Linked DNA regions of Homo sapiens. The protein of the gene in region 1 purifies or fractionates together with the protein of each later gene. This does not show direct contact. Each region holds a gene or a part of one and is shown on either strand. Other genes may lie near its edges. The genes, in order: NPC1, PON2, BRI3BP and TMEM192.

Region 1 (7,123 bases):
CAATGGCGTGATCTCGGCCACTGAAACCTCCACCTCCTGGGTTCAAACAATTCTCCTGCCTCAGCCTCTTGAGTAGCTAGGATTACAGGTGTGTGCCACCACGCCCAGCTAATTTTTTTTTTTTTTTTTGAGACGGAGTCTCGCTCTGTAGCCAGGCTGCAGTGCGGTGGGGCGACCTCGGCTCACTGCAACCTCCAACTCCCTGGTTCAAGTGATTATCTCACCTCAGCCTCCCGACTAGCTGGGATTACAGGCATGCACCACCACCCCCGGCTAATTTTTGTATTTTTAGTAGAGACGGGGTTTCACTATGTTGGCTAGGATGGTCTCGATCTCCTGACCTCATGATCCACCCACCTCAGCCTCCCAAAGTGCTGAGATTACAGGTGTGAGCCATCACGCCCAGCCTAATTTCTTGTTGCCCAGACTGCAGTGCAATGGCGCAATCTCAGCTCCCTGCAACCTCCGCCTCCCAGGTTCAAGAGATTCTCCTGCCTCAGCCTCCTGAGTAGCTGGAATTACAGGCATCCACCACCATGCCTGGCTAATTTTTTGTATTTTTAGTAGAGATGGAGTTTCACCATGTTGGCCAGGCTGGTCTTGAACTCCTGACCTCAGGTGATCCACTTGCCTCGGCTCCCAGAGTGCTGGAATTGCAGGCATGAACCACCGCGCCTGGCCAATTTTTGTATTTTTAATTGAGACGGAGTTTCAGCATGTTGGCCAGGCTGGTCTCGAACTCCTGACCTCAGGTGATCCACCTGCCCCGGCTTCCCAAACTGCTGAAATAATAGGCGTGAGCCACCGTGCCCAGCCCCAATATTTTTTAAAATAAGAAACAAAATAAATAAAATCACAGATTGCATTTAGGTACTTCCATACATTGCTGGCTGCAATTTCTTTGGAGGGCAATTTGACAACAATCAAAACTTAAATACCCATTTCCTTTGATCCAACAATATAAAAGTATTTCCAACAGTTCTATTTGCGCATGATTGCAAAGATTTACATCCAAGAATGGGCCAGGAGTGGTGGCTCACGCCTGTAATCCCAGCACTTTAGGAGGCTGAGGCAGGCAGATTGCTTGAGCCCAGCAGTTCAAGACCAATCTGGGCAACATGGTGAAACCCCGTCTCTACAAAAAATACAAAAATTAGCCAGGAGTGGTGGTGCACAGGTGGGAGGATCGCTTGAGCCCAGGAGGTAGAGGCTGCAGCGAGCCATGATCATGCCACTGCACGCCAGACTTGGCAACAGAGTGAGACTCTGTCCCAGAAAAAAACATTTTTAAAAGATACAAGGATGTTCATTGCATCATTTCCAGTAACAAGTGACAAGCTAAATGCCCAAGAAGAGACTGATTAAATAAGTTACATAGTGGATCAAAAATTATTAACGTAAGTATTTCTAGCCTTCCCCTACCATCTGCCAGCTACAGATAATTTAGTCTTGGGTCAACTTTCTCCTCTCCCTCTACAAGGGAAATGTTCAAAAGTGTTTAGACTTTGGTGATGCAGCATGATTGGGAAAGCAGAGGGCACAGAAAGATGCCAGGCTTTGTGGTCTCCAGGCAAGCTCAGGAATGTGACAAAGCATACCGAAAAGAAAAGCGGGCTGGGAGCAGTGGCTCACGCCTGTAATCCCAGCGCTTCAGGAGTCTGAGGCTGGTGGATTGCTGGAGGCCAAGAGTTAAAGACCAGCCAGGCCAACATGGTGAAACCCCATCTCTAATGAAATCCAAAAAAAAATTAGCTGGGCGTGGTAGCGCACACCTGTAATCCCAGCTACTCGGGAAGCTGAGGCATGAGAATCTTTGGAGCCGGGGATGTGGAGGTTGCAGTGAGCTGAGATCATGTCACTGCACTCCAGCCTGGGAGACAGAGCAAGACTCTGTCTCAAAAAAGAAAAAAGGAAAAGGAAAGATAAATTTATAATGTATTGCCAGGACCACACAAACCCTTCATATGTACCAGGAATGCAAGTAGAGGAATTGAGTTATTTTGAAATACTTGTTGGCTGGTGATTTATATTTCATTGATTTAGACACTGCTCTGAGTATGGCTTCAGAAGTGTTACATACGCATAATAAAATCCTTTACAGCTATTAAAAGGAGTGAGGTAGGAAAGCATACTGCTAAAAGCAAAGAAGCCAGATGAGAACTGTGTACTGTACATCCCCACTTGTTTAAAACGTTTGTATATTATATTCACATATGTATGCTTTCCACTACATAGAAGTTTTCTGGAAGGTATTTCTGCACATTTATAAAGATGCACATCTAATAATTTCATTTCCCCCCATTTTCTACTTATTGCTCTGAGGTCAACACTGAATAGTCCTTATGAAGATGGTATTGAATATTCTTTCAACAAAAAAGTCTCCGGATCTCAACTACTGGAGCTCAGAAAACGATACCCCAAAGTAGGAGGCTTTGGCATGCTAAGTACTTTGAACTAAAGGAGATTAGGTCTCAGTAGCAGCCTCAGAAACAAAGTCTACCCATGACTTTCTCCTGCCCTCCTGTCTCCAGCGGTCTTGCACCCCTGAAGTAAGTCACAGGAACCAGAATTCTTCTTCCCCAAGGAGGGTTATGGAAACTTAGAACCTTCAAAGTAATTTATAAACTTGGAAATCTTACTGTAACATTTTCTTCTACCTCTCTCTGTCTTTGAGACAGGGTCTTGCTCTATCACCCAGGCTGGAGTGCAGCAGCATGATCATAGACAACTGTAGCCTCCTGGGCTCAAGCAATCCTCCTGCCTCAGCCTCCTTAGTAGCTGAGACTACAGGTGTGTGCCACTATGCCCAGCTAACTTAAAAAAAATTTTTTTTTTGTATAGAGGGAGTCTTGCTACATTGCCCTGGCTGAGAATTTACATTTCTAACAAGTTCCAAGGAGATGCTCCTGCTGCTGGTCTGGGGATGGCCGTTTGAGGATCCCTGCATGAAGGCATACACAGGACTTGATCCTCAGTGGGGGCACCAGGAGCTGGAGCCTGGGGAGTGGGAAGCGAGAGCACAGAGCTGACTGAGGACCACGAGGTCGTCGTGGAGGACCTAGGCTGAAGGTCCTGAAGAAATCCCCATAGTTTCACTGCCAGGCCAGCCAGGTGGACATCTCAGGGCTGAGGAGGTGAGAAGGCAAGACAGAAAGTGAAACAGCACTTTATAGGATAGGGATGGGAAGGTCATCTGCATCATGGGACTCCTTGGGGAGGGGTTCGGTCATTGCTCCAGATGAAGGTTTAGTCTTTTCATCGTAAATTTGCTTTCACTGTTGGGAAAGAGATCTTCACCTCCATTTTCTTAACTTCAAAATGGAAATGACAGATGCTTTTGAGTGGTCTGAATACTTGAAATTTGAGGGAAAACGTTACCAGAAACACATACAACTAGAGTTAAAGATAAATACATATATCAAACGCATGGCTCAAAAATGACAACGCGTCTTCTTTATCTGCCTTCACGTAGAACTTAAAACAGACCCTGGTCCCCACCTCGGGGTTTCCTCGCGCCCACGGGCTGCGCTGCGCAGCTGGGCCAGCAGGTGGCGAGGCTCCCGCACTTTTTTTCCCGGGCCTGGCCGCACCGCCACCGCCCACCCCGCGCTCCGCCCCGCCCCGCCCCGCCGCACTCGCGGATCGTCACACGGTCAGGCCACCGCGCGTCACCGCCCCGGGCTCTGCTAGAAAGTGCCGGGGTCCAGATTCCTTTCAGGTGACTGGGTTGGGAGGAGAAGTCGCTCAGCGTAATTGTCGGAGCCGAAATAAACAGAGACTCCGCGGCCGGGCGGGACCTTACCCGGAAGTCCCCCAGAACAGCACTACCCTTCGCTGAAACCTCGCCCGCCCCCTCCAACCCAGAGACGAAAAGGGAAAGCATCACGGCCAGAAACCGTTGGCACAACTCCACAGATACTCTCCCGGGCCGAGCCAGACTCCATAAGTCCCGCGCCTGGCCCCCGGGGATTGCAGGGGCTGAGGAGAAGGGCAACACGGGGACCTTGAAGCGGGGTCGCGGCGGCGCCCCAGCCCGGGCCAGGGAGTCCCGGCAGCGGCACCTCCCAGAAAGGGCGGAGCCGACGACGCCTTCTTCCTTCCTGACCGGCGCGCGCAGCCTGCTGCCGCGGTCAGCGCCTGCTCCTGCTCCTCCGCTCCTCCTGCGCGGGGTGCTGAAACAGCCCGGGGAAGTAGAGCCGCCTCCGGGGAGCCCAACCAGCCGAACGCCGCCGGCGTCAGCAGCCTTGCGCGGCCACAGCATGACCGCTCGCGGCCTGGCCCTTGGCCTCCTCCTGCTGCTACTGTGTCCAGCGCAGGTGAGCGGTCGCCGGCCACCGGGACGCCCTGTGGGGACGTGGCGGGGCCGAGAGCCGGGGAAGGCGACGGGCCCAGCGACGGCTCAGGCCCGGGTCCTGGGGAAGTTGGTCTGGCGATGGAGAGCTCGGAGGTTCCTCACTTGTCCTGTTTCTGTCTCCGGCCACGCTCTCTTTCCTGTGGTCTGGAAGAGGGTGGCAGTGGGGGCTTGGGTGACCTGTTCTGAGCTTGTTCCATCTGTGGTCACCTAATTTCTCTGTGTAGGATGTGGCACCAGAAGAAGGGAGGAAAGTGGGTAGAGTGGGATAGGGACACTACTTGCTTTTTAAAAAATTCTGCTACATGCGCACGAACTCCAAAATTTAGGAGCTCTAACCACTTTATTTCCTCTTCTCATCACCTGAGGATGGAGGTGGAAGCAGAGGTAAAGAGACACAAACTTCCTCAAGCACCCGGTGAAACTGCCTTGAGTACTTGACATAAGTCAGCTTGGTCTTCTAAAGAGGGCAGGTTACTTTTCATCAACTCCTTTTTACACCTCAGGACACTGAGACTCACAGGGCGGTATTGAATTTCCCCTTGTCACTATTAGCCAGCGACAGGATGGGGCCTGGAACTCGGTGTCCTGCTGACTCCTTCTGGGGGCTTTTGCTTGGTTTAATAGCTTTGGGAAAGAGCACCTCAGTATTTGTGTGTCTGTAGTTTCCTCTTTTAAAACTGGAGTGGGGCAGTGTCACGCTGTGACTCGTTAAACCAAATCAGGATGAGAGTGCCTCCGGGGAATTGTGTCCTTGTGCACATTAACGCCCCTCACATAGGTGTGGCGTCAATAGGAAGTGGTGAATCAGGGGAGAGGGGGTTCCGTGGACTAGAAAAAACTCTCCTTCGACTTCTATTTAGTTCTCAGAAGGGGATAGGTGATGTTGATCCAATAATGGACTAAGAGCCAGGAGAAGGGCTCCGCGGGAGGATCTCTTGAGCTCAGCAGTTCAAGACCAGCCGGGGCAACATGGTGAAACACCGTCTTAAAAACATTTTGTTTTTCTTTTCATTGTTGAGGTTGAGGCTGCTGTGAGCTGTGATCACGCCGGTGTACTCCAGCCTGGGCAACAGAGCAAGACCCTGTGTCAAAACAAAAAAGAGAGAGAAATAAATAATAGCAATTATGTGCCGTAGAGAAAATGTGGCTATTCTGTTTCCCTAGAGTTTTTTAAAATTTATTTTTAAAATTTATTTATTTTAGAGACAGGTTCTTGCTCTGTTGCCCAGGCGTGGGGGCAGTGTCGCCATCATAGCTCACTGCAGCCTGGAACTCCTGGCCTCAAGCAGTCCTTCCACCTTGGCCTCCCAAAGCACTGGGATTATTGTGAGCACCACTCCTGGCCCCTCCTAGAGTTTTAGATCAGGACCTTAAATAGGCTTCCCTTTTTTTTGGAGACAGAGTCTCTGTTGCCCAGTCTGGAGTGTAGTGGCGCAATCTCGGCTCACTGCAACCTCTGCCTCCTGGATTCAAGCAATTCTGGTGCCTCAGCCTCCCAGGTAGCTAGGATTACAGGTGCCCACCACCACGCCCAGCTAATTTTTGTATTTTCCGTGGAGATGGGGTTTCACCGTGTTGGTCAGGCTGGTCTCGAAATCCTGACCTCTAGCGATCCGCCCTCCTCTTTTGGGGATTACAGGTGTGAGCCACCTCGCCCAGCCAGGCTTCACATTATTAAGTAGCCATCTCTTAAGTATTTTTTAAATCTCAAGTACCCAAGGCTGATGGCCAATGAGTGCTTCTTTTATGACATTTGGGATAGGTCAGAGGTTTGTTGTAAGTCTCTTGCAAAAATGCCTGGAGGCCTTTTCAAGGTCTGTAAACCTTAACTGGAAATAATCCTATTATTATTTTAAAAATTCCTCATGTCTGAAAGCTTTCAGTGCACCTGAACAGATTGGGGTGGAGCCATGAAGCCAAACAGATTGGGAGAGAGAGTGTGTCTGCTTTTAGAATTCGTACCGATGATAGCAGCTCATTAGCTTCAGTCTGAGCGCTAGTAGAGTTCTATCATGGAATTATGGACTAGTTGTCCTGTGTAAGATCTGAAATACATGTTGGGGGGATTTTTGCTTTTTCTTAATGTTCAATATGTACAGATGATGTAATAACATTACTAGACTGCCTTGTTTTTAAAACCCTGTAGTCATCTAAAAACTATATGCAGTTTTGAGACATAGCCTTTATTTTTCCCGGCTGTAATTTTGGTAAGCTTTATCTTGAGGGACTTGGAACATAGAGAAGCCTGGGTAGAAATTAAGCATTAAAATGGCTTTTCCTCAGAAGACTGGGAATGGTTAATCTTTTGACCTGTGAGTGATTAAGAACAACCATCTGAAATTGGAATGACTGTGGGAAATCTTTCCCCATCTTTCCCACTCCTTGACTGATGCTGTGATCAGAAATTTTACTAACATAAGTAATCAAGGGGAAAATGAGATTTTTTTAAATTTGAGCCAGTGGGCAGAGGGAAAAGGACTCGCTGAATAGGCCTTTGTATTCCTCCAGTGTTTGTTATATTACCCAGAACAAAGAATCACTCTGGTCATGAAGACAGTGTGCTCTCTCTTTCCTGGGTAACCCTCCACTCCTAAAAGGGATGCAGTATTCTAAGCATGGCAGATTACCTACAGCGGAAGCCTGGATCAGTCATCTCTGATCTCGGGTGCCCCTTTCTGCCCTTTGACCTCCAGCTCTGTGAAGGGCATCAGCTCTCCAGTCAAATTGAACTGCTTGCTAGCAAAATCCTGCCCATCTTCCAGGGCCCCA
Region 2 (8,050 bases), on another chromosome or scaffold:
CTAAAAGGAGTAGAACGTACGGTTCATTCATGGAGAACTACAAACAATGCTGCTTTGGACAATGGAAAACGTGCATGCATTTCCTAGAAGAGGATGTAACATGTCTTTACTTTTTCCATAGAGTTCAGCCCATCCAAAGTCAGCCTCACATGGAGGTTGGGGAGTTTTTGTATCTTTCTCTTCCTGCTCCCCTCTTTTCTCCCAGTGTTTTCTTCCTCTCTGTCCTCTTCCCCAGGGTTCAATGGCTCCTGGAAGAGAGGCAGCAAAGCCTATAGCTCTCCAAATAAATAGGCTTGGGTCTCATGGGGACAGGCAAGCCAACTGGCCTAGACGTGAAGTTTACAAAGAGCCCTAAATGTTGACTTTCAACATTATCTCACAATTCATTTATTCATACATCACAAAGATACAGTGACACAACTGAAAAAACTCATTCATTTTAAACTTGAGTTCCATGACTGGACCACTCTTCCTATAGCAAACCAGGAATAAATATTTTTTATGAATTGCATAATTATTTTGTAACTAGCACATTACATTGTATTTTATCTCTGTTTATGAATTTGACCTCTACAAACAAGTTAATATCATTCAACCTATTATTTGAAGATGTTAATTTGTTGAACATAAATATTAAAAAAAAACTTTATGTTTCTGTTATGCCATTTCTTCACTTTTTAATATGTTGGAATTCTCAGAAAACGGCCTGGCTGTGGGGAGGTTTCCTTTACTCTTTGAGAAGCCACGGAGTGAGGCATCTACAAGGCAAATCTTTCTTTTGCTGATAATAACCATCTTTGATAGCATCCCTTCAATGCATTTTTGTTCCCTTTTTAAAACAGAAGTAAGGAGAAGAAGGGATAAAAGGAATATGGAGGGCCGAACTCCCTGTCACATATTATATAAAATTACAATAATCACGAGTCACCTATTTCACAAATTACTGTGAGCGTTACAATTAAGAATACACTGCAAAGAACTTTAAAGAGTTAAAAGTACAATTATGAAAGGCAGTGTGCTCCAGGGACCATTTCAGTCTGTGAACTCTTTGTTTCTGGTCCATGGCTAGTTAAGTATAAAAAATTGAAAGTAAGCATTTAGAAACTGTTACAGAAATTTGACAAAGTAATTTTATGTCTGTTGAACCAAATAATAAAAGATTTGGGCTTGTATTTTGTATGTCTGGTTTTTTTACTTCCTCTTCCAGTAAGTCATTTTCATTGCATTTTACAAAGGCCAAGAAAAACCTGTCCTTCACTGCACATAGTTTGAGAAGCACTGATAAAAGGTATTATTATTTCTGAAATTTTGCTTAAAAAACCACTTAATAACCACTAAATAAGTCAGAAGTCATTATTTGAGAAATACTGTTTCATACCAAGTATAAGGAGTTGCCAGCACACAAGCAAGTTCCAGAACAAGTTTGTTTTGTATTGAGTAACTTGGTTATTTGGTAGTCAGAAACCACTTTCCCCAGGAAACAAACGTAAACCAGGGGTTATGTTCTTGGTGTGGCCTATACATCCTAGTTATCTCAAAAGACAGCTAAACTATACTATACAATGTAACAACCACTATAACATTCTTACAATGGTTTCTGATTTCCAAATTAGAAAATACGTCTCATCTCCATCCCCATGTGAGGAATGACAATTCCAGCCCTAGCATGGTGGTGGGGCTGGGGGTAAAGATGGATACTACTTCTGCAAAAGTTGCTTCAACCGCAACATTCAGAAAGAGAAAGAATATGGGGGTAGAAGATTCCTCACACAGATTATTGGGGGAACTCACTGGTCATGTTAATAAAGTTAAAATAAGGTTTCCATTTCTCTTGATTCTCTGAGGGTGAGCTTAGGTAGGTTTTGGTGGACTTGAAAGTCCTGGCTCATTATCACAAATGCTTCCATGCTAAATCCCAAGGTGTTGTTCCTCCTGACCACCCAGCACCAAGATGGCAAACAGGTTTCATCCTGAACTGAAATCTGTTCCCTAGCTCAGGGATTCTTATTTCCCTTTCGTTGTTGTTTTAAAAAATTGTGAGGACAAGTCTGGGTGTGATGAGACACTTTGCCAAAATCAATTAGTGACGCCTACCATGGGCCAGGGAAGAAAGGAAAGTCAGCACAAAAGCTGGTTTTGGTTGTTGTTGTTGTTTTTGCTATCCTGAGACTAGCCTAAAAGATGTAGACCTCCAACCCTTTAATGTCACCTGGAACCAGGTTGAAGAACATGACTATTAAGAACATGACTTTTTTCTTTTTAAAAAATTGGGAATAGCAAAAGGGAAATAGACAGAGAATAGCATATACTTGGATATTCTTATTTGCCATCTATGTGGTTTCCTCATTTTGCGGAACTTGTGGAAAGACACGGTAGCCTGGCTCCTGACCCAGAATCCATGAGGCATAGTTGTATGTACTTCCCTTGGGGCCTAAGAGATTAAGAGAGAAGCCCAGACAATAGTCCAAGGCCCTCTGCTTTAGGTCTTTCTTCTAAATTCTGATTCTTTAATTTTTTTTTTTTGTTAATTTTAATTTTTTTTTTGTAGAGATGGGTTCTCCCTATGTTGCCCACAATGGTCTTGAACTCCCCGCTTCAAGTGATCCTCCCACCTGGGCCTTTCAAAGTGCTGAGATTATAGGCAAGAGCTACCTTGCCAGGCCTAAATTCTGATTTTGTATCTGAGGCTCTTCTCTTCCTCAATAATTGACACCAAAAATAGTCCTAGAAAGGAGATTCCACCCTTCTCTAAACAGTCATAGCCTTAGCCTATGTCAGAGTTCTTAACCCAGTGGTCCATTGATAGTTCAGAGGAATTAATGACCTTGGATAAGAAAAAAAAAATCTTGATTTCAAATGGAATTTAGCATTTTCTTCAATTACAAAACTAGCAGACAAACCTCAGAAGCATTTGCAGTACTTGTGACTGTTACTAATGGAAATAACAGTTATTTTCATTATTTCATTATAGTTGTTTTCAGTATCATGAAAGAACATTTGCACTCCTCTTTATTTAAAAGAATGTTGCTAGATCTTGTTATTTAATATGTTAAATAATGTTGCACACATTACATTACCACATTACTATAGCAAAAAATTATGTTTTAGATATTTTAACAATTACATTTCAATTGTTGACCTTTAATTTTAAAGCTAAGGCAAAATTAATGTAAGTAGAGAGTTTATTTGGGCCAAGTTTGAGTACTGCAACCCAGGAGTATAGATTCAAGTTTCCCTAAATATACACTCTGATTAGCAGCAGTTACACATAGATTTTTAAGGGGAAGGAAGAGGCAGTTCCTAAATTCCTTGCGTTAAAATAACATAAGCTGTGGATTGGTTATACTTTGTTCTTTGTATCATAAATTCCAGGAATATGAAGATAATGGGTGGGACAGCTACTCGGGAACAAAATGTCTTTAAACAACTGTCCCCAGGCATGGGTATTGGGGCGTGACTGAAGTCCCATACTCATGTCGCTCTGGGCCTGATAAATTTTGCATACCTCACAAAGCTCAGACTGCTCTCAGCTATTTTTTTTCCTTACAATGTAATTGATTTTCTTTGCAATCTATACATTTTATTCATTTATTTAAAATTTTTTTTTCTTCTTTCTTTTTTTCATGAACCGCACAGAGAAAATTTATGCATTTTATTGTAAGCATTTATAAACATTATTCTAAGAAGTTATCCACAGGCTCACCACTGCCAGAAGGGTCCACGACACAAAAAAGGTAATGCCTCATGGGCTTTCAAAGGACAACTTTTTACTTCTCTTTCTACCATCCAGTATAATCCAATATCCTTAGGACTGAAGCAGAGATACACACACACACAGGGAGAGAGGTGTTTGTGCTTTTTTTTTTTTTTTTTTTTTTTGGTGAGAGGCAGGTGGGAAATTGGCATCCACTTTTATTTACTGGTTCTTTATAAAACTGATATTTGTTGAAAATTGTCAAGTGTGACCATTTCTGCCTACATATTGTAGGGTGGCAATTAAATACCGAAAACCATTAGAAGCTTATTTCAGATGTACTCATTTATTGTAATGGTATCAATCTTGATGGGTAAATTTCATTTTACTTTTAAAATTGTATTTTAAATTATTCCTTCATGTTACGGTTGTTAGAGTAAAAACGGAAAAGAAAAAAACTACACTTCTTCCCTTTGAGTTTGGATGAAAAAGACGTGTCTAAGTCCTTAAGTCTGTAGTCTGGAAGTATTAATAGAGGCTGGGCATGGTGGCTCATTCCTGTAATTCTAGCACTTTGGGAGGCTGAGGCAGGAGGATGGCTTGAGTCCAGGAGTTTGAGACCAACCTGGGCAACACAGCAAGACTCGGTCTCCACACACACACACACAGACACACACACAACTTACACACACTTAGCTAGGTGTAACGGTACGTGCCTGCGGTCCCAGCTACTCAGGAGGCTGAGGCTGGAGGGTCCCTTGAGTCCGGGAGGTCCAGACTGCAGTGAGCTATGATTGTGCCAATGTACTCCAGCCTAGGCAACACAGCGAGACCCTGTTAAAAAAAAAAAAAAAAAGTATTACGAGGCACAGGATGTTTATTTATTCGCAACTACGTCCTGTTATAAAAAGTAGTGATTCCAACGTGAAATATTTACACGACGCATCCCGTTACTTTCCCTCCCTTGGCCACCGACCCCCATCCCCAAAAGCTGCTTTCTATGTAAGTTTCTCACTGGAATAGCGAGTGAGAAATGTGTTTGAAGACTAGGGAAACGAGAAAGGTATGCGGGCTGCTAGAGGGTTTCGGGTGGGTTGTTTGAAAAAGGAAGTGAAGGAATTCAAAGTTTCACATCATGAGCCTAATGTAAGGCGTGTCCGGGCCGTCCCGAAGGTATCTGGGGAAATAGGTTTGTGAGGACAAAGACCAGGGCCAGGCCCAGGGCGGAGCCTCCGCGGCCCCGACGCAGGGACTCGGCCTAGGCGGAGGACGGGGCGGAGCGCGGCCGGCACCATCGAGCCGGGAAGATGGCACCGCCCACGGAGCTGCTGGCCAGGCCGGAGCGAGGCAGCGCGCCCGGCTCCCGCGCCATGGGGCGGCTGGTGGCTGTGGGCTTGCTGGGGATCGCGCTGGCGCTCCTGGGCGAGAGGCTTCTGGCACTCAGGTAGGTGGGACTCCCGCGCGCCCCTCCTCGGCGGTCCCCAGGCTCGGGGTGGCCGCGTGGTGCGGGGAGGGCGCAGGCTGGGGGAGGGATTCCTGCGGGACCTGGCCCTGCGGCCGGGGGTGGAGAATTTTTGAATGCTGTCCCTCCCCCAGCTAGTTGAACCCCCATCACCCCGACTCTCCGCTTCTAGTGAAAAAACTAGCAAAGTTTGGAGTGAATCGCGACACTTTCTTGAAAGTTTATAAGCCCTTGCTGCTAACAAAGTTCTCTTCTGCTTAGGCTGACAAGAGAATGCTTTGCAATTACCCAAGGGCCAAACTAGTGGTTTAAATTGAAAACAAAATGACTACTCATGCATTGAAACCTTAACTATGAAGATTTATTTCAGGTCATTGGTGCTGTTTCTCCTTGTTGCCCAAACCAGACCCGTCTTTAATAAAGTTGTTCTCCACCCATTTCTGCATAGTTTGAGAAACTCTTCAGCTGTAGATCAAAGACACTTGAAATATTCAGCTACTGTTCTTACTTCCTATTTATTCACCAGGGAAGCCTGAAGCCAGAATGCCAGACAGCGCAGACACTATTCCATCTCGCATTTTAGTTTTAATGAAAATCTCTGGTAGGTAGACATCATCGTTTATAAATTACCAACTCAACGTTTGTTTTTTGTTTATTTTATTTTTTGTAGAGATGGGGTCTTGCTGTATTGCCCAGGCTGTTCCCTAACTCTTGCACTCAAGCAATCCTCCAGCCTAGGCCTCCCCACAGTGCTGGGATTACAGGTGTGAGCTGTTCTGCCCTGCCTCAACCAAAATTTTATAGGCCTCATGCAAAAGAGTTCCAGAAAGACTGAGCACCTGCTATGTGTAATGTTCTCTCTTAGGCTTCTATAGTAGAGTACGACCCTTATGGAGTTTGATACAGGGGAAGAGAGAATTAAAATACAGTAAATGTATAAATTAGGATGTTCTAAGGACAGACACAAATGAACCGCATAGGCTTAAAGAGGAAAGATTCCATCCCCTGAGGGTGGAGTTCTAGAGGGAGGAAGAGACATTCGACCTGACCTTGAAGGGTGGGTGCAACACATATGAGCATGAAGGGGCCCATGCCAAATGTATAGTGCAGCAGGAGCAAAGGGGCTAAGGTGGGAAGTTGGAAGACTAGCAAATGGGCCAATTTGAAGGGAGCATAAAGTCAGGAGATGAGAATAGTAGGGTGGTGGGAAGGATAGGTTTTGAGGCCATTAAATATAAGTTGAAAAATGGGGCCCCACTTTCATAGGCCCAATAGTGCTTCAAAAGGGAAATATTGGTGGGTTTTGCTTTTCAACAAGAACTTAATATAACTAGTTGTGTTTTATAGAGATAAGCCTGGAAGGGGGGATTGGAGGAGAGCAATGGTTCTCTGTACATTAGAATCTCCTGGAGGGCTGGTGTCTGAGTGGCACCACCAAAGATTCTGATTCAGCTGTTCTGGATCAGAATCTACAGCTCACACCTGTAATCCCAGCACTGTTGGAGGCCTAAGCCAGAAGATTGCTTGAGCCCAGGAGTTAGTGACAGGCCTGGGCAACATAGCAAGATCCCACCTCTACAAAATGAATAAATAAATAAATAAATAAATAAAAAACAAAATTTGAGTTGGTAATTTATAAACTATGGTGTCTACCTACCAGAGATTTTTCGTTATAATTAAAATGTGATATGGAATAATGTATTGTTTGGCAAGCTGGCTTCAGGGTTCCCAGGTAAATAGATAAATAAGGAAGTGCATAATGTAAGAACAGTGGCTGACAGTAGCAGTGGCATTTTTTATTTTTAAAAACATTCCTGATAATTCTAATGAGCAGTCAAGGTCGAGAACTACTAGAATAGAGAGCAGACATGGGGTAACTGGTTAAGGTATTGCAGTAGGTCAGAGAGGATAACAGGGACCCAAACTCTGGAACCCCAGGGATGAGGGAGAAGTCAAAGGTGCTACCAGAGTTTGTGCCACAGCTCCACTGTCCCATGGTTGTAGTTTCATCTACTGATAAAGCAGTGCAAAGAGGAAGCGTGTGGTGGCTGAGATGGGAGTGAGATTTGAGGAAAGAACGCTTATGGGTAGGAAATGGACATGTTGACCTTAATTTTCATGTTAGGTAATGCCCATTGTGCTCTACAGAACATTCATGAGTTGGATGACTTTGTATATGATCTGTCCTGCTCTCCATTTCAAAGGCAAGACCACCAAAATTCACAAGCTTATTATGTTGTCACTAATGTGTAAGCCACCAGTTTTTCTGCAAGTTGGAAGTTTTCTCAACAGTCAAATATTCCCCCTTCTCACTAATCTTAAGGTTTTAAAGTTATAGCTGCAAATCTAAAAAAAAAAGAAAAAGTAAATAAAACTTATTGACAGAATGCCTGATAGTTTATTTACAGGTTTTTGTTTGTTTGTTTTTTGTTTTTCTTTGTTTTTTATTTTGACACAAGGTCTTGCTCTGCCGCCCAAGCCAGAGTACAGTGGTACATCAAAGCTCACTGCAATCTCAAACACCTAGGCACAAGCAGTCCTCCCTCCTCAGCCTCCTGAGTAGCTGGGACTACAGATGCATGCTACCATGCCCAGCTAGTATTTTTATTTCTTGCAGAGACAGGGTCTCACTTTGTTGCCCAGGCTAATCTCAAACTCCCAGCCTCAAGTGATGCTCCTGCCTCAGCCTCCCAAAGTGGTAGGATTATACACATGAGCCACCACCCTCGGCCTACTTTACAATTTGATGCACCTTTTCTTTACGTGACTGTGATGCACTTTAATGGGCAGTGACTTTATAAAATGGTAACTTTATTGGATATGTGGAGCCCCAAATGGGCTGACGTGAGAATGTTGGGGTAGGTGGTGGGTGGCTGGATTTAGCAAAGAAAAAT
Region 3 (7,639 bases), on another chromosome or scaffold:
GCGCAGCTTCCCCATGGCGACTAGGCCAGGGTGGGCGCTCCAGCGGCCGGACCAGCAGAGCAATCCGAAACCCAGCCCACGTGGGTTCCCAGACCACCAACTCCGGCCGTGAGACTTCCGGGTTGTGTTATCGCGAGAACTGTAACTGACTTTGCCGCTGAGGGGCGGGGTTGCAAGAGAAACCCAGCGAAGAGGAGAGGCGGAGCCGGGCCGGGCAGGGGGCGGGACTATTTAGAGAAGTAGGCGGGGCCTGAGGTCCCAGCGGAGGCCGGAGTTTAAGTCCTGGGCTGTTCTCGCTTGGGGTAGTCTGGGTTTAAATATGAATTATATCTACTGATACTAATTTGGCTTCTTGGGAGTGGAAGTGTTTTGCCACCTTTTAAAATATACCCCGCCCCCAGTACTCCAAACTTCTTCCCCCCAACCCTGGTTTGCGCATCTGTATTTTCTGATATTCCTACAAGAAACGTATTAGTCGTGTACTTTTAAAAAGGCACCAAATATTTCCATCACAGGGATAGATGGAAGATCTAAAAGGAGGCCTCTACGGGCGCGGTGGCTCACGCCTGTAATCCCAGCACTTTTGGAGGCCGAGGCGGGCGGATCACGAGGTCAGGATTTCAAGACCAGCCTGGCCAAGATGGTGAAACCCCCGTCTCTACCAAAAATACAAAAAAAATTTAGCTAGGCCTGGTGGCAGGCGTCTGTAATCCCAGCTACTTGGGAGGCTGAGGCAGAGAATTGATTGAACCCGGGAGGTGGACGTTGCAGTGAGCCGAGACTGCACCACTGCACTTCAGCCTGGGCAACAGAGCTAGACTCTGTCTCAAAAAAAAAAAAATAAAGTTGTCTATTACATAACTTTAAATTCCCATTACCGCATCACATTGTAACACACTGGGAAACAATGCATTATTATTATTATTGAGACAAGGTCTGGCTTTGTTGCCCAGGCTGGAGTGTAGTGGAGCAATCTCGGCTCACTGCAACCTCTGCCTCCCGGGTTTAAACGATTCTCCTGCCTCAGCCTTCCGAGTAGCTGGGACTACAGGTGCCCGCCACCACCCCCAGCTAGTTTTTGTATTTTAGTAGAGACGGAGTTTCACCATGTTGGCCAGGCTGGTCTCAAACTCCTGACCTCGTGATCTGCCTGCCTGGGCCTCCCAAAGTGCTGGGATTACAGGCATGAGCCACCGCGCCCGACTTTTTTTTTTTTTTTTTTAAGAGATGAGATCTCGCCCTGTGGGCCAGGCCAGAGTGCAGTGGTGCAATCACCACTCGCTGCAGCCTTGACCTGTCCTCCCACCTCAGCCTCCTGAGTAGTTATGACTACAGGCACACACCACCACGACGGGCTAATTTTTCTATTTTTTTGTAGAGATGGTGTCTCCCTATGTTGCTTAGACTGGTCTCAAAATTCTGGGCTCAAGGGATCCGTTTGTCTCGGCCTCCCAAAGTGCCGGAATTACAGGCATAAGCCACTGTGAAGGCCTTAATGAATGACGTTTAAAAAAATCATAATTAGCGTATCAAATCTATGGGGTTTTTTGTTTGTTTGCTTGTTTTTGTTTTTTTGAGACAGAACTCTCCCTCTGACGCCCAGGCTGGAGTGTAGTGGAGCAGTCTCGGCTCACTGCAACCTCCACCTCTCGGGTTCAAGCGATTCTCCTGTCTCAGCCTTCCAAGTAGCTGGGATTACAGGCACCCACCAAGATGCCCATCTAATTTTTGTATTTTTAGTAGAGATGGGGTCTCACCATGTTGGCCAGGATGGTCTCAAACTCCTGACATCAAGTGATCGGCCCACCTTGGCCTCTCAAAATGATGAGATTACGGGCCTGAGCCACTGCACCCAGGCTCAAATCTGTGTTTTTATGGATTTTGTTGCTCAGGATGATAGTGATCTAAAGTTTCTTCTTTAAATATGTTTATTTAAATAAATTAAAAGTTTAAGAAACGTTTAAAAAATGTTAAGTAGGTAGTAGTACACTTGCCTATATTTCCTTCTAAAATATAATATATCAGTGAATTACCTTCCAGAAGGTATAGACCATTCTAGACAGCAAGAAGAAGGCAGATACATAACAGCATGGATGGATCTCACAAATATAAAGTTGAACAAAAGCTGGGCGTGGTGGCTCACGCCTGTAATTCCAGCACTTTGGGAGGCCAAGGCAGGCGGATCACCTGAGGTCAGGAGTTTGAGACCAGCCTGGCCAACATGGCGAAACCTGTCTCCACTAAAAATACAAACATTAGCCGGGTGTGGTGGCGCGTGCCTATAGTCCCAGCTACACGGAAGGCTGAGGCAGGAGAATCGCTTGAACCCCGGAGGCGGAGGTTGCAGTGAGCCGAGATCATGCCACTGCACTCCAGCCTGGGCAACAGAGCAAGACTCCGTCTCAAAAAATAAAAAATAAATAAAAAAAAAAGTTGAACAAAAGAAGCCAACCCCCAGAGTACTGTGTGGTTCATTTACATAAACTTCAAACACAGGCAAATGAATCCCCTAAATTTTAAGAGGAACATAGTGAATGGGAGGGGACAAAGGGAGGCTTCGTGGGGGAACTGGTAATGTTTCGTTTCTTGATTTGGGTGCTGGTTACCTTGGGTATTCAGTTTGTGAAAATTCATAAAAATTTATATGATTGTGTATTTTTCTGTATGTTATACCTTAATTAAAAAGTTTATTATTATTATTATTATTATCATTTTTTATAGAGATAGGTTTCACTATGTTGGCCAGGCTGGCCTCGAACTCCTGTGTTCAAGCAATCCTCCTGCCTTGGCCTCCCAAAACAAGCTTGTGCCACTACACCTGGCGTAAAAAAAGGTTTTTGTTTTGTTTTGTTTTGTTTTTGGGACGGAGTTTCACTCTTGTTGCCCAGGCTGGAGTGCAGTGGCTTAGTCTCGGCTCACTGCAACCTCCGCCTCCCAGGTTTAGGCGGTTGTCCTGCCTCAGCCTCCCGAGTAGCTGGGATCACAAGCAGGCACCACCATAACTGGCTCATTTTGGATTTTTTTTTTTTTTTTTTTTTTTTTTTGAGACGGAGTCTCGCTCTGTCGCCCAGGCTGGAGTGCAGTGGCACGATCTCGGCTCACTGCAACTTCCGCCTCCCGGGTTCACGCCATTCTTCTGCCTCAGGCTCTGAGTAGCTGGGACTACGGCGCCCGCCGCCACGCCCGGCTATTGTATTTTTAGTAGAGACGGGGTTTCACTGTGTTAGCCAGGATGGTCTCGATCTCCTGACCTCGTGATCCGCCCGCCTCGGCCTCCCAAATTGCTGACCTTGTGATCCGCCCGCCTCGGCCTCCCAAAGTGCTGGGATTACAGGCGTGAGCCACGGCGCCTGGCCTCATTTTGTATTTTTAGTAGAGACGGAGGGATTTCTCCATGTTGGTCAAGCTGGTCTCGAACTCCCGACCTCAGGTCACCCGCCTCAGCCTCCCAAAGTGCTGGAATCACAGGCGTTAACCACCGCACCCGACCTACAAAAAAGTTTTTAAAAAGATAAACAATACAGGAAAAAATGTGCAAAGGATATGAATAGGTAATTCACAGAGAAGTAATTCAAATGGCCAATAAATCTATGAAAATCTTACTAGGAATCCAGAAAATGTAAATTCAAAAATAAGAGCATTTTGTATTCTTTGGATTGGCAAAAATTGAGTTTTATTTTCTTGGTTGTCTAAAAAAAATGTTGGTTAGACTTGATTTGTTTGATTTAGGATGCAAACAGGGTCCTTGCATTGCATGGGTTATTATGGCTCTTAAGTCTTTAAAACCAATTATCCTCCTCTTCGCTCACCTTTTATACCAATTATTTATTGAACAAACTGGGTCGTTTGTTTGGTAGAATGCCCCACATGCTGGAGTTGGTTGGTTGCTTCTGCTGCTTCTAAGTTTTCCTTATCTGCCATATTTCCTGTAAACTGTAGGTTTGATCTAGAGGCCCCATCAGGTTCATGCTCAACTTGTCTTGGCAAGAATCCATCGCAGGTGGCGCTGGTACTTCCTGGCACTAAGATCGATTGGCGGGACCGGGACTTCGCGGCTTAGCCCCTCCATTTTCAAGTTCCCCGCCAAACCCTCCCCTCTTGGTTGTACCCATTTCTGATGATCATCGCGTGAATCCATCATTCTATTGAGGGGTGCCAAATAATTTTCGGATTCTCTCATTCATCCTCATGTATTAGCTGGACTTTGTAAAAGAAAGTCCCTCCCCAACTATTTTGGGGCTCTGAAATACAGTTCATTCAGGAAGGGCAGGAGGATGCCTGATGCTTTCTTGTTATTTAAAATTTTCAGGATGAATGAGCTGATGCCCACGAGGGCGAATTTTGGGGTACCATTATAATACATTCAGGGAGATTACATATATGTCTATTTCATGTTTTTCAATCAGTTGCAGTCACTTTCCTGGTTGAAGCTGTTGCAAGTTTTACAGGCACGGGTTGCTTTTCCACGGATAAGTTAAAAAAGAGAATTTTTTTTTAAATGATGAGAAGCCGCACCGGGTCGGGGCAGGCTTCCGGGAGGCGGGCGCGGGGCCCCGGGGCCGGGTCGCGTTGGTCCCGCGCCGGGGGCGGGGCGCGGCGTGGGCTGGGCCGTGCGCCTTTGCGCGCGGGGCGGGGCAGGTGGCGCAGCAGCGGCGGCGGCGGCTGTGGGTAAAGGCGCGGCGCGCGGCCCCCGAGCGCGCCAACCTTGCCCTAGCCGGAGCCCGCTGCGGCCCAGCGCACGGCCCTCACCCCGCATCGCGACCCCGCGCCCCGCCGGCCGAGCATGGGCGCGCGCGCCTCAGGCGGGCCCCTGGCCCGGGCCGGGCTCCTGCTGCTGCTGCTGCTGCTGCTGCTGCTCGGGCTGCTGGCCCCGGGCGCGCAGGGGGCGCGGGGCCGCGGCGGCGCGGAGAAGAACAGCTACCGCCGCACGGTCAACACCTTCTCCCAGAGCGTCAGCAGCCTGTTCGGCGAGGACAACGTGCGCGCCGCTCAGAAGGTGGGCGCCGGGCCCGCGCCCGCGGTCACCTTGCCCCGGTCGCCACGCACCTGGCTACCGGGGCCGACCTGGGAGGAGCGCGGCCTCCGGGGCTGCCCGCCCGGCCAGCGCGCGGGAAGAGGGGGTCCGGCCTGCGCCTCGGGGCCTGCCGCCTGCGGCCCCCGCCGGGCCTGACCAGTGCGGGTCTGGGCGGCCGGGCCTCGGGGCGCCCTCTCCTCTGCGCCGCGCTTCTCCTTGGACCTTGCCTCCGCGGTCGGCGCAGCCAGAGTCTCTCCCGGCTGCGCTGACGCCTGCCGCGCGTCTCATTCATTCATTCACCGCGTTTGAATGGCTCCTACTGTGAGCCAGGCAGCACACTGGCGCTCTCGGTCCCCACGCGGCTGCGCCCTCCCCAGCTACCCCGGGTTTGTCCTAGCCTCGCATCCCGACCCACTTCCCCTGGGACCTTCTGCCCCACTCCTCCTCCTGCTTTGAAGATACTTGGAGTTGTTTTTACTTTACAGGAAAAGAAGGGAGCAATGCGATTTGCTCGGTGGCTTTGGGAAACCGAGCACCTACTGTGTGCGGGGCCTTTCGCGTGGAGCCTTTTGTTTAGTTTGGGGAGGTCCCGGATCCTGCAGCCTCCTGGGAAGGGTGTTGAGTCCCAGGAGGATCGCAGGGGGTTTTCCCCAATTCCTGCTCTCTGGAGCTAGGTGCGATAGGGGTGCCATTCCGGGCCGAAGTCCGCCGACTAGCTCTTGAGAAGGAGGAAGTTACTGGGGACAGTTGTGTGTGGTATTGCGGTTCCTTTGCTGTTCCCTGGGGAGGAGGGGGCTCTTGCTTGCCGCCAGCCTTCCTGGGGTTTTGGAGTCAGAGAAGTTTGGGTTCAAGTTGGAGCTCTACCAGTTGGATGACTTTGGGGAAGTGACTTCACTTCTTTGAGCTTGTTTCTTTATTTGTTAAATGGGGATAGTAATCATTCCCCTTCATTGCGAGGTTGTAATTATGACTAGTTGGTACCTTCCTGGCCCAGAATCATGGCTAAAAAGTTAAAGTTTTCTGCTCATTGAGAGGGAGTGGGGAATAGAAGGGAATATGAAGGCCGAAATCAGATTGACTGCATGTTCTTACTGGATAACATGAAAGGTTAATTTGTTAGGAAAACAGTAAGTTTTGACCTCCCTCTCCTGTGGGCAGGGGCACCTCTTGCACAGGTGGGTCTGTGTCTTCATACATGTAGGGGAGAGAACGCTTTGTAGGTGGCCAAAGAGGGGCAAGGAAGCAGGGCTGAACGCCTGAATGTGAAAAGGTTGCCCTGGAGTCTGGCGCGGGAAAGGATCAGGGGTGTGAGTGCAGGGAGTCTCACTTACTTCCTCTTGATGCCGTTTCGGAGCTATTTGAAGGCAGAAATCATTTGTTTTAGAGCAAAAATAAGCCTGTCTTTTTCACGCAGGGTGACCACAGGATCCCCATGTCTCAACTGACGGTGGTTCCATGTGACAATCTAAGGCCAACAAACATGAAATACGAGTGGTTATTTAAGACTTTTACTTAAATAAGACAATCTGTATTCTGGCAGAGCATCTCCGAATCTGGGGGTCAGAGCTCTTCCTGGGCTAAACCGGGGTTTGTGCCTTTAATAGAGATACTAATGATTACTAAGTGCTTTTGTAGATAGAATAATCTTATGTAATCCTTAGAATGACCCTGTGCAGTAGGTACTGTTACTGTTCCCATTTGACAGATGAGGAAACTGAGACACAGAGCAGTGAAGTGGCTGGTTTCAGGTCAGATGAGTGGCAGAGCCAGGATGTGAACCTAGGCAGAGTGGACATGGAGCCCACATTAGTATCTCTCGCCTGTTTTCCTGCTTCATGACCCCTTCCCTGTTCCCCGAGTCAGTACAGCATCCAGAGGCTGACCTGACTTCTTTCCTTTTTGTTTTTTTGAGACGGAGGTCTGGCTCTGTTGCTCAGGCTGGAGTGCAGTGGAGTGATCTCGTCTCACTACAACCTCCACCTCCCAGGTTCAAGCGATCTTCCCCACTCACCCTCCCAAGTAGTTGGGATTACAGGTGTCCACCAGCATGCCTGGCTAAGTTTTGTATTTTTAGTAGAAAAGAGGTTTCACCATGTTGACCAGTCTGGTCTCAAACTCCTGACCTCAAGTGATCCTCCCGCCTCGGCCTTCCAAAGTGCTGGGATTACAGGTGTGAGCCATTGCACCTGGCCTGACTTATTTTATTTCCTGCTGAGTGTAGCCCACACTGGCCAGGCTTGGGGATATTGTTTTGTTAATTTTATGGGTTTTTTTTTAAATTTAATTAATTAATTTATTTTTTGAGACAGACTCTTACTCTGTCACCCAGGCTGGAGTGCGTTGGCACGATCTTGGCTCACGGCAACGTCTGCCTCCTGGGCAAGCAATTCTCCTGCCTCAGCCTCCTGAGTAGCCGGGATTACAAGTGAGTAGCCGGGATTACAAGTGAGCACCACCACATCCGGCTAATTTTTTATGTTTTTGGTAGAGATGAGGTTTCATCATGTTGGCCAGGCTGGTCTCAAACTCCTGACCTCAAGTGATCTGCCGACCTCAGCCTTCCAAAAGTGCTGGGATTACAGGCGTAAGCCACCGTGCCCAGCCTGTTTTGTGAATTTTAAATAA
Region 4 (7,248 bases), on another chromosome or scaffold:
CCAAATGAATATTATGGGCAATAAGTTTTATAGGATTTTAAAGCAGAAGGAAAACACTTAACAAGGCCAGTTTTATAGAGAACATAAACTTGGTTAGGACCTTGAAAGATGCATAGAATTCTGAAAAAGGTAAGGGAGGATATTTGTAGGGCTCTATAGAAAGCTCATTTAGGCGAGAGAAGAAGGTGCATGAAAGTGACATATTAGGAGATAAAGTAGATTATTGTCTTATAGTGAAGTTTTCAATGCTAGCTTTGTTTAAATGTCCCAGGTCTGGCCAGGTGCGGTGGCTCACGCCTGTAATCCCAGCACTTTGGGAGGCTGAGGCGGGTGGATCACCTGAGGTCAGAAGTTTGAGACCAGCCTGGCCAACATGGCGAAACCCGGTATCTACTAAAAATATAAAAATTACCTGGGCATGGTGGCACATGCCTGTAATCCCAGCCTGTGGTCAGGAGGCTGAGGCAGGAGAATTGCTTGAACCTGGGAGGCAGAGGTTGCAGTGAGCCAAGATCACACCATTGCACTCCAATCTGGGCAACAAGAGCGAAATTCTGTCTCAAAAGTAAATAAATAAATAAATAAATAAAAATTTCCCAGGTCTGAAGCATACAAGAAGTTGAGCAGTCTTTCTTTCTCTCAACACGCATATTGAACACCTTAGCATCTGCTGTGTATCAAGTGTTAAAAGCACAAAGGACATAATATAAAAGAGTCTCTGCCCTTGTAAAGCACATTTTATTCTGACAATTTCAATGCCATGTGCTTAGTATGGTAGGTTATGATACAGATACAGATGTAAGAGAGTTCAGTAGGGACTTCCATTCCCAGCCAACATGGAGTAACTGGGAATAGATATACCATTCTGCCTGAAACAACCAAAAAGCTAGATATAACGTATGATACAACACTTTGTGAGATACCGGACATCAGACAATGAAGGGTAGCAATCTCAGAGATGGGAAACAAATGCTGTGAACCCTATCACTGCTCCGGCTTACTGCCTTGAAAGAGTGTGCAGGCTGTGACAGGGAAGGGGGAAGCCAGGCAGAGCCCAGCAGACTTCTGAGTTGAGGAGATGGAGTTGAGGGTCTAGGAGATCGAGGTAACTGGAGTTCACAAGACAGAGCACCCAGAGAGGAGAGAGCTACAAAGAGGGAGAACTCTGAAGATATGCACGGGGAGCCCCCTGGCCCTGCGCCTACCAGGCATCCAGTAGAGTGCTAATCAGGGCATGAGGAAGCTCTTGGAGGCCTCATAAAGAACCACCTAAAAGGATTGGAAGGAACAGTTTCTCCATACAGGGCCAAGAATACTGCCTATTTCACCCACAAGCCAGACGGAACCCTCATAATTCACAGAGCATGTAGGTAGAGTACTCAGAAAGGTCTTGCCTCAGTAGTGGAGGCCTTAGATTAGCCTTAGATGAAGCCCACCTAATTTCTTAACAGCAAGACTGTTTCCAAGTAACTTGACTGCACTCCAGAACAAAGTTCACGAATATAGGATTACAGAAAATGGCCGGGTGCGGTGGCTCATGCCTGTAATCCCGGCACTTTGAGAGGCTGAGGCGAGCGGATCACGAGGTCAGGAGATCGAGACCATCCTGGTTAACATGGTGGAACCCTGTCTCTACTAAAAGTACAAAAAATTAGCCGGGCGTGGTGCTGGGTGCCTGTATCCCAGCTACTTGGGAGGCTGAGGCAGGAGAATGGTGTGAACGCAGGAGGCAGAGCTTGCAGTGAGCCGAGATCATGCCACTGCACTCCAACCTGGGTGACAGAGCAAGACTACATCTCCAAAAAAAAAAAAAAAAAAAAAAAAAAAGGGAATACAGAAAATACCCAGCACCCACAGAGGTAAAATTTGCAATATCTGGCATCCAATAAAAAATGACAAGGCATGCTAAGAGGCAGGAAAATGTGAGCTGTACTGAGTCCACTGAAACTGATTCAGACATGACATAGGCTAGAAATAGCATGTGAACATTAAACATTATTATAAATGTCTTCTATATATTTAGAAGTTACATAGAGACATGGAAGATACAAAGTAGACCCAGCTCAAACTTGTACAGATGAAAACTACAATGTCAGATTAAGAGTGCAGTAGGAATGATGCTGGGGCTGGGAATGCTAAAAAGGCACCGCAGAGAAGGCGGTTTTGCTGGGACAAGCATTTGACAGGTGGGGAAGAATAAGTAGAGCTGGTGTAGAGATGGAAAGTGTTTCATGAAAGACGGGTATCATAAGCAGACGGCACCAGGAGGGAGGGAAATGGTGAGAGGCAAATCCTTGGCCAGGCGTGGTGGCTTATGCCTGTAATCCCAGCACTTTGGGAGGCCAAGGTGGGTGGATTGCTTGAGTTTTGGAGTTCAAGACCAGCCTGGGCAACATGGTGAAATCTCACCTTTACTAAAAATACAAAAATTAGCCAAGCATAGTGGAGTGTGCCTCTGGTCCCAGCTACTCGTGAGACTGAGGTAGGAGGATTTCTTGAGCCTGGGGAGGGGGGCACGGAGGCTGCAGTGAGCCGAGATCGTGCCACTGTTCTCCAGCCTGGGTGACAGAGTGAGACCCTGTTTTTTTTTTTGTTTTTGTTTTTGTTTTAAAAAAAAAGGTTGGGTACAGTGGTTCACACCTGTAATCCCAGCACTTTGGGAGGCTGAGGGTGGACCACTTGAGGTCAGGAGTTTGAGACCAGCATGGCCAACATGGTGAAACCCCGTCTCTATTAAAAATACAAAAACTAGCTGGACAAGGTGTCGGGCACTTGTAATTCCAGCTACTTGGGAGGCTGAGGCAGGAGAATTGTTTGAACCCAGGAAGCAGAGGTTGCAGTGAGCTGAGATCATGCCATTGCACTCCAGCCTGGGGGACAGAGCAAGACTCTGTCTCAAAAAAAGAAAAAAAAAAGAGAGAAAAAAAATCCTGAGAAGTTACTTGGGGACAGATTGTAAAGCGATAGACTAAGAATTTGGACTTTGTCCTGAGGATTTGGGGATCGTATTAGGATTATCCAGAGGGACAGAACCAATAGGATATATGTATATATAAAAAGGGGGTTTATTAGGGAGAATTAGCTCACAAGATTACACAGTGAAGTCCCATGATAGGCCACCTGCAAGCTGGGGAAAGGGAAGGTGGTAGTGGCTCAGTCCAAGTTCAAAAGCCTCAAAACCAGGGAAGCCAACAGCGCAGCCTTCAGTCGGCAGCCGAAGGCCTGAGAGCCCCAGGCAAGCTGCTGGTGCAGGTTTCAGAGTCCAAAGGCCGAAGAATCTGGAGTCTGATGTCCAAAGGCAGGAATTAAGGAGGCAAGCATCTGACGCAGGAAAGAGAGAGCCAGAAAACTCAGCAAGCTGCTTATACGCCTATTCTGTGCTTTGTTCTAGCTGCATTGGCAGCTGATTGGATGGTGCTTGCCCATATTGAGGGTGGGTCTTCCTCTCCCAGTCCACTGACTCAAATGTTTGGCTCCTCACAGACGATACTTTGCCATCCATTTGACACTTAATATTGACCATCATAGGGAGCTACCCAAAGTTTTTGAGGAGAGAAACACGAATGTTTGTCTTGGAGCAGTGAAAGAGATTGCCAAGACCAGAAGACTGGAAGCTTCTAATAAAAGGCCATGAGAAATGGGAGGGCCTGGACTAAGATAGTGAGAATAGAGAGGAAATAACAGGTTTAGGAGTTAGAATGGTAATGATTTTTTCTCTTTTTATCATGCCCCAGCACTGAGTGGATAGAATGGTAATGATTATAGGGGTAGTGTCTTTGTTTGGGTTGCTATAGTAAAATACAAATAGGGTAATTTACAAATAGAAATGTATTGACCACAGTTCTAGAGGACAGGAAGTCCAAGATTAAGGCAGCCACGGATTCAGGAAGCCCAAGATCAAGGTGCCAAGAGCCCTGGGGAGGGGTTGCTCTCTGCTTCAAAGATGGCGCCTTCTTGCTGCATCCTCACGCAGTGGAAGGTGGAAGGGAGCTCATTCAAGCCTCTTTTATAAGGGCACTGATCTCATTTATGAGGGGGGGAACCCTCATGGCTTAATTACTTCCCAAAGGAAAGCAGGGAACTATTGGGGGACACCAACATTTAGACCATAGCGGGGTGCAAGTCAAAAGTAAGAGTTAATAAAAAGGCCAAGTGTGGTGGCTCACACCTGTAATCCTAGCACACTGGGAGTGCACTTGGGAGGATTGCTTGAGGCTAAGAGTTCAAGACCAACCTGGCCAACATAGCGAGACCCTGTTGATTTTTATTTTAAAATTTAAAAAATATTAAAAAGAGAAAAGAGTTAATAAAGAAATAATAGTGGCTAATACTTATTGAGTGCTCTCTGTGCGTCAGGCAGTGTCATGAGGACTTGCATGTGTAGTGACTCATTTAGTATTCCTGACAGAGCTACGAAGCAGGTGCTATTATTAGTCTCCTTTTTAGATGTGGAAACTGAGGCATGAGAGATGAAGTAACTTGCTCTCAGCTAGAAAGCGGTAAAACTTGTGCTTGAATCCAGGCAGTTTGCCCTTAGGAGCCTGACCTTAACCACAGCTCTTACTGCCTTTGGTCACAGTTGATCCCCCGTATGTCCTGATAATCTCTTCTAATTAGCCCAGGTCTTTGATGATGCCCATAATTGAATTAGAAAATACTGCAGAAACAGGTTTGGGGCACTCATTCATTCATCTAGCAAATGTTTGCTGAGTGACAACCATGAGATAGTGTTGAGTGCTGGGATTACAAAGACAAGAGGTGTAAAGGTAATGGGTCCAATGACGTCTAGTGGAGAAGAGATAAGTAAGAGACCATCACAGGATAGTTTGATAGAAGAGGCAAGCACAGAATGCTTTGAAAAACATGGAGGGTGGCACAATCCAGATTAGGGGTATCCAGAAAGGCCCTGTGGTGGGAATTGCCCCTTCTGAGCATGAAAGAATGCACAGACATTAGCTAAGGGAAGAGCAGATCTCAAGGCTCCAACATCTGCTGACTGAGAATGAGCTAGAGGCAGAGGGGTCTTGAAGAGAACAGGAGTAATCTGAATTGTACCATGAGTTATGGTAAACTAAACAGGAAGCAATCTAGGCATTGAATAAAAGACTTGGCCAGGCGCGGTGGCTCATGCCTGTAATCCCAGCACTTTGGGAGGCTGAGGCAGGCGGATCACCTGGGGTTGGGAGTTTGAGACCAGTTTGGCTAACATGGCGAAACCCCATCTCTACTAAAAATACAAAAATTAGCCGGGCATAGTGGCGCGTGCCTTTAATCCTAGCTACTCAGGAGGCTGAGACAGGAGAATCGATTGAACCCAGGGGGCAGAAGTTGCAATGAGCCGAGATTGAGCCACTGCACTCCAGCCTCGGCGACAGAGCGAGATTCCATCTCAAAAACAAACAAACAAACAAAACAACAAAAACAGTTGCAGAGCAGTGTTGAATACCTGCTACTGGAAATTGAGGAGCCCACTCCAGAGCTAGGTTACACCCTAGATTACTGTCCTTATCTTTGTAATCTTAGCAATCAACAGCCATCTCTTACATCATTTGTCCTACTACCTACTTCCAAAATAAAGAGCTCTCATTCTGTGTAGCCAAAACCTATTCATGAATCCTTCATTTCTGTCTCATTGTAGTGCAGTTAGCTGACCTAAATTTTTTGGCATTGTCTTCTATGCTTTTCATTTGCTGATTTGTTATGTGCTTCCCATGAACCATATTCTTTTTTTCTTTTTTTTAACATGTGATGAGAACACTTAAGATCTACACTCTTAGCAAATTAAAAGTATATACAATGCAGTATATATCCATATTTTTGAGACGAAGTCTCTCTGTCGCCCAGGCTGGAGTGCAGTGGCGCAATCTCGGCTCACTGCAACCTCCACCTCCTGGGTCCAAGTGATTCTCCTGCCTCAGCCTCCCGAGTAGCTGGAATTGCAGCTTGCGGCCAAGAGTTCAAGACTAGCCTGGGGCCGGGCACTGTGGCTAATGCCTGTAATCCCACCACTTTGGGAGGCCGAGGTGGGTAGATCACCTGAGGTCAGGAGTTTGAGACCAGCATGGCCAACACAGTGAAACCCTCCCTCTACTGAAAATACAAAAATTAGCTGGATGTGTGCCGGGCACGGTGGCTCATGCCTGTAATCCCAGCACTTTGGGAGGCCGAGGCAGGCGGATCACCTGAGGTCAGGAGTTCGCGACCAGCCTGACCAACATAGAGAAACCCCATCTCTACTAAAAATTAAAAATAAAAAATTAGCCGGGTGTGGTGGTGCATGCCTGTAATCCCAGCTACCCCAGGAGGCTGAGGCAGGAGAATTGCTGGAACCCGGGAGGTGGAGGTTTCGGCGAGCCAAGGTTGTGCCAGTGCACTCCAGCCTGGGCAACAAGAGTGAAACTCTATCTCAAAAAAAAAAAAAAAAAAAATTAGCTGGGTGTGGTGGTGCACACCTGTAGTCCCAGCTACTCAGGAGGCTGAGGCAGGAGAATTGCTCGAACCTGGGAGGCAGAGGTTGCAGTGAGCCAAGATTGCGCCGCTGCACTCCAGCCTGGGCAACAGAGCGAGACTGTCTCAAAAACAAAAAACAAAACACAAACAAACAAGACCAGCCTGGGCAACATAGTGAGACCGTGTTGCTACAGTTTTTAAAAAATTAATTAATTTTTTAATTAATTAAATTAAATTAATAATTAATTTTTAAAAAATTGGATTCAGGTAGGCAATGTGTTCTCTTGCCTTTAATTTGTATGTGGTTAAAAAGCTCTGTAGTTTAGTAGATTTGTCTTAGAAACATAATCTAGAAAGTGGTGATTATAGGTTGCTTGTTTTTCTGCACCCCAGGGTTCCTTGGATATCACCCAGAGTATTGAAGACGACCCACTTCTGGATGCCCAGCTTCTCCCACACCACTCATTACAAGCTCACTTTAGACCCCGATTCCATCCTCTTCCTACAGTCATCATAGTGAATCTTCTGTGGTTTATTCATGTAAGTTGGCTGCAAGAAGGGGACCTATCCAGAGGTGATGTTTGTAAAAATTATATAAGTGTTTCAGAGGGCAGTTGTGCTGTATCTATCAACATTTAAAATGTAGGGCACATGTTCTTAGGACATCCTGAGTGCTGTGTCATGGGCAAAAAAAAAAAAAAAAAAGTACGTACACTTTTACTTATATCTTCAAATAATTCATTGTGGATATATTTGCACACATGTAAAGATATTGTTGATAATAGCCATGTTGTCTGT

Evidence for each region.
Region 2: the proteins of NPC1 (region 1) and PON2 purify together in Homo sapiens (affinity purification with mass spectrometry; 3 studies listed by BioGRID and IntAct, with this or other methods). This does not show direct contact.
Region 3: the proteins of NPC1 (region 1) and BRI3BP purify together in Homo sapiens (affinity purification with mass spectrometry; 2 studies listed by BioGRID and IntAct, with this or other methods). This does not show direct contact.
Region 4: the proteins of NPC1 (region 1) and TMEM192 purify together in Homo sapiens (affinity purification with mass spectrometry; 2 studies listed by BioGRID). This does not show direct contact.

Annotation. Positions count from the first base shown.
Region 1 is NC_000018.10:23,583,480-23,590,602, reverse strand, and holds the start of NPC1 (NPC intracellular cholesterol transporter 1 precursor), read left to right. Parts: upstream 1-4,096; 5' UTR 4,097-4,259; coding exon 4,260-4,316; intron 4,317-7,123. UniProt on the Homo sapiens protein: Intracellular cholesterol transporter which acts in concert with NPC2 and plays an important role in the egress of cholesterol from the endosomal/lysosomal compartment.
Region 2 is NC_000007.14:95,431,966-95,440,015, reverse strand, and holds the start of PON2 (serum paraoxonase/arylesterase 2), read left to right. Parts: upstream 1-4,987; 5' UTR 4,988-5,064; coding exon 5,065-5,138; intron 5,139-8,050. UniProt on the Homo sapiens protein: Capable of hydrolyzing lactones and a number of aromatic carboxylic acid esters. Has antioxidant activity. Is not associated with high density lipoprotein.
Region 3 is NC_000012.12:124,989,008-124,996,646, forward strand, and holds the start of BRI3BP (BRI3-binding protein precursor), read left to right. Parts: upstream 1-4,637; 5' UTR 4,638-4,783; coding exon 4,784-4,996; intron 4,997-7,639. Other genes in the region: putative ATP-dependent RNA helicase DHX37, read right to left, coding at 1-15. UniProt on the Homo sapiens protein: Involved in tumorigenesis and may function by stabilizing p53/TP53.
Region 4 is NC_000004.12:165,102,692-165,109,939, reverse strand, and holds part of TMEM192 (transmembrane protein 192), read left to right. Parts: intron 1-6,843; coding exon 6,844-6,990; intron 6,991-7,248.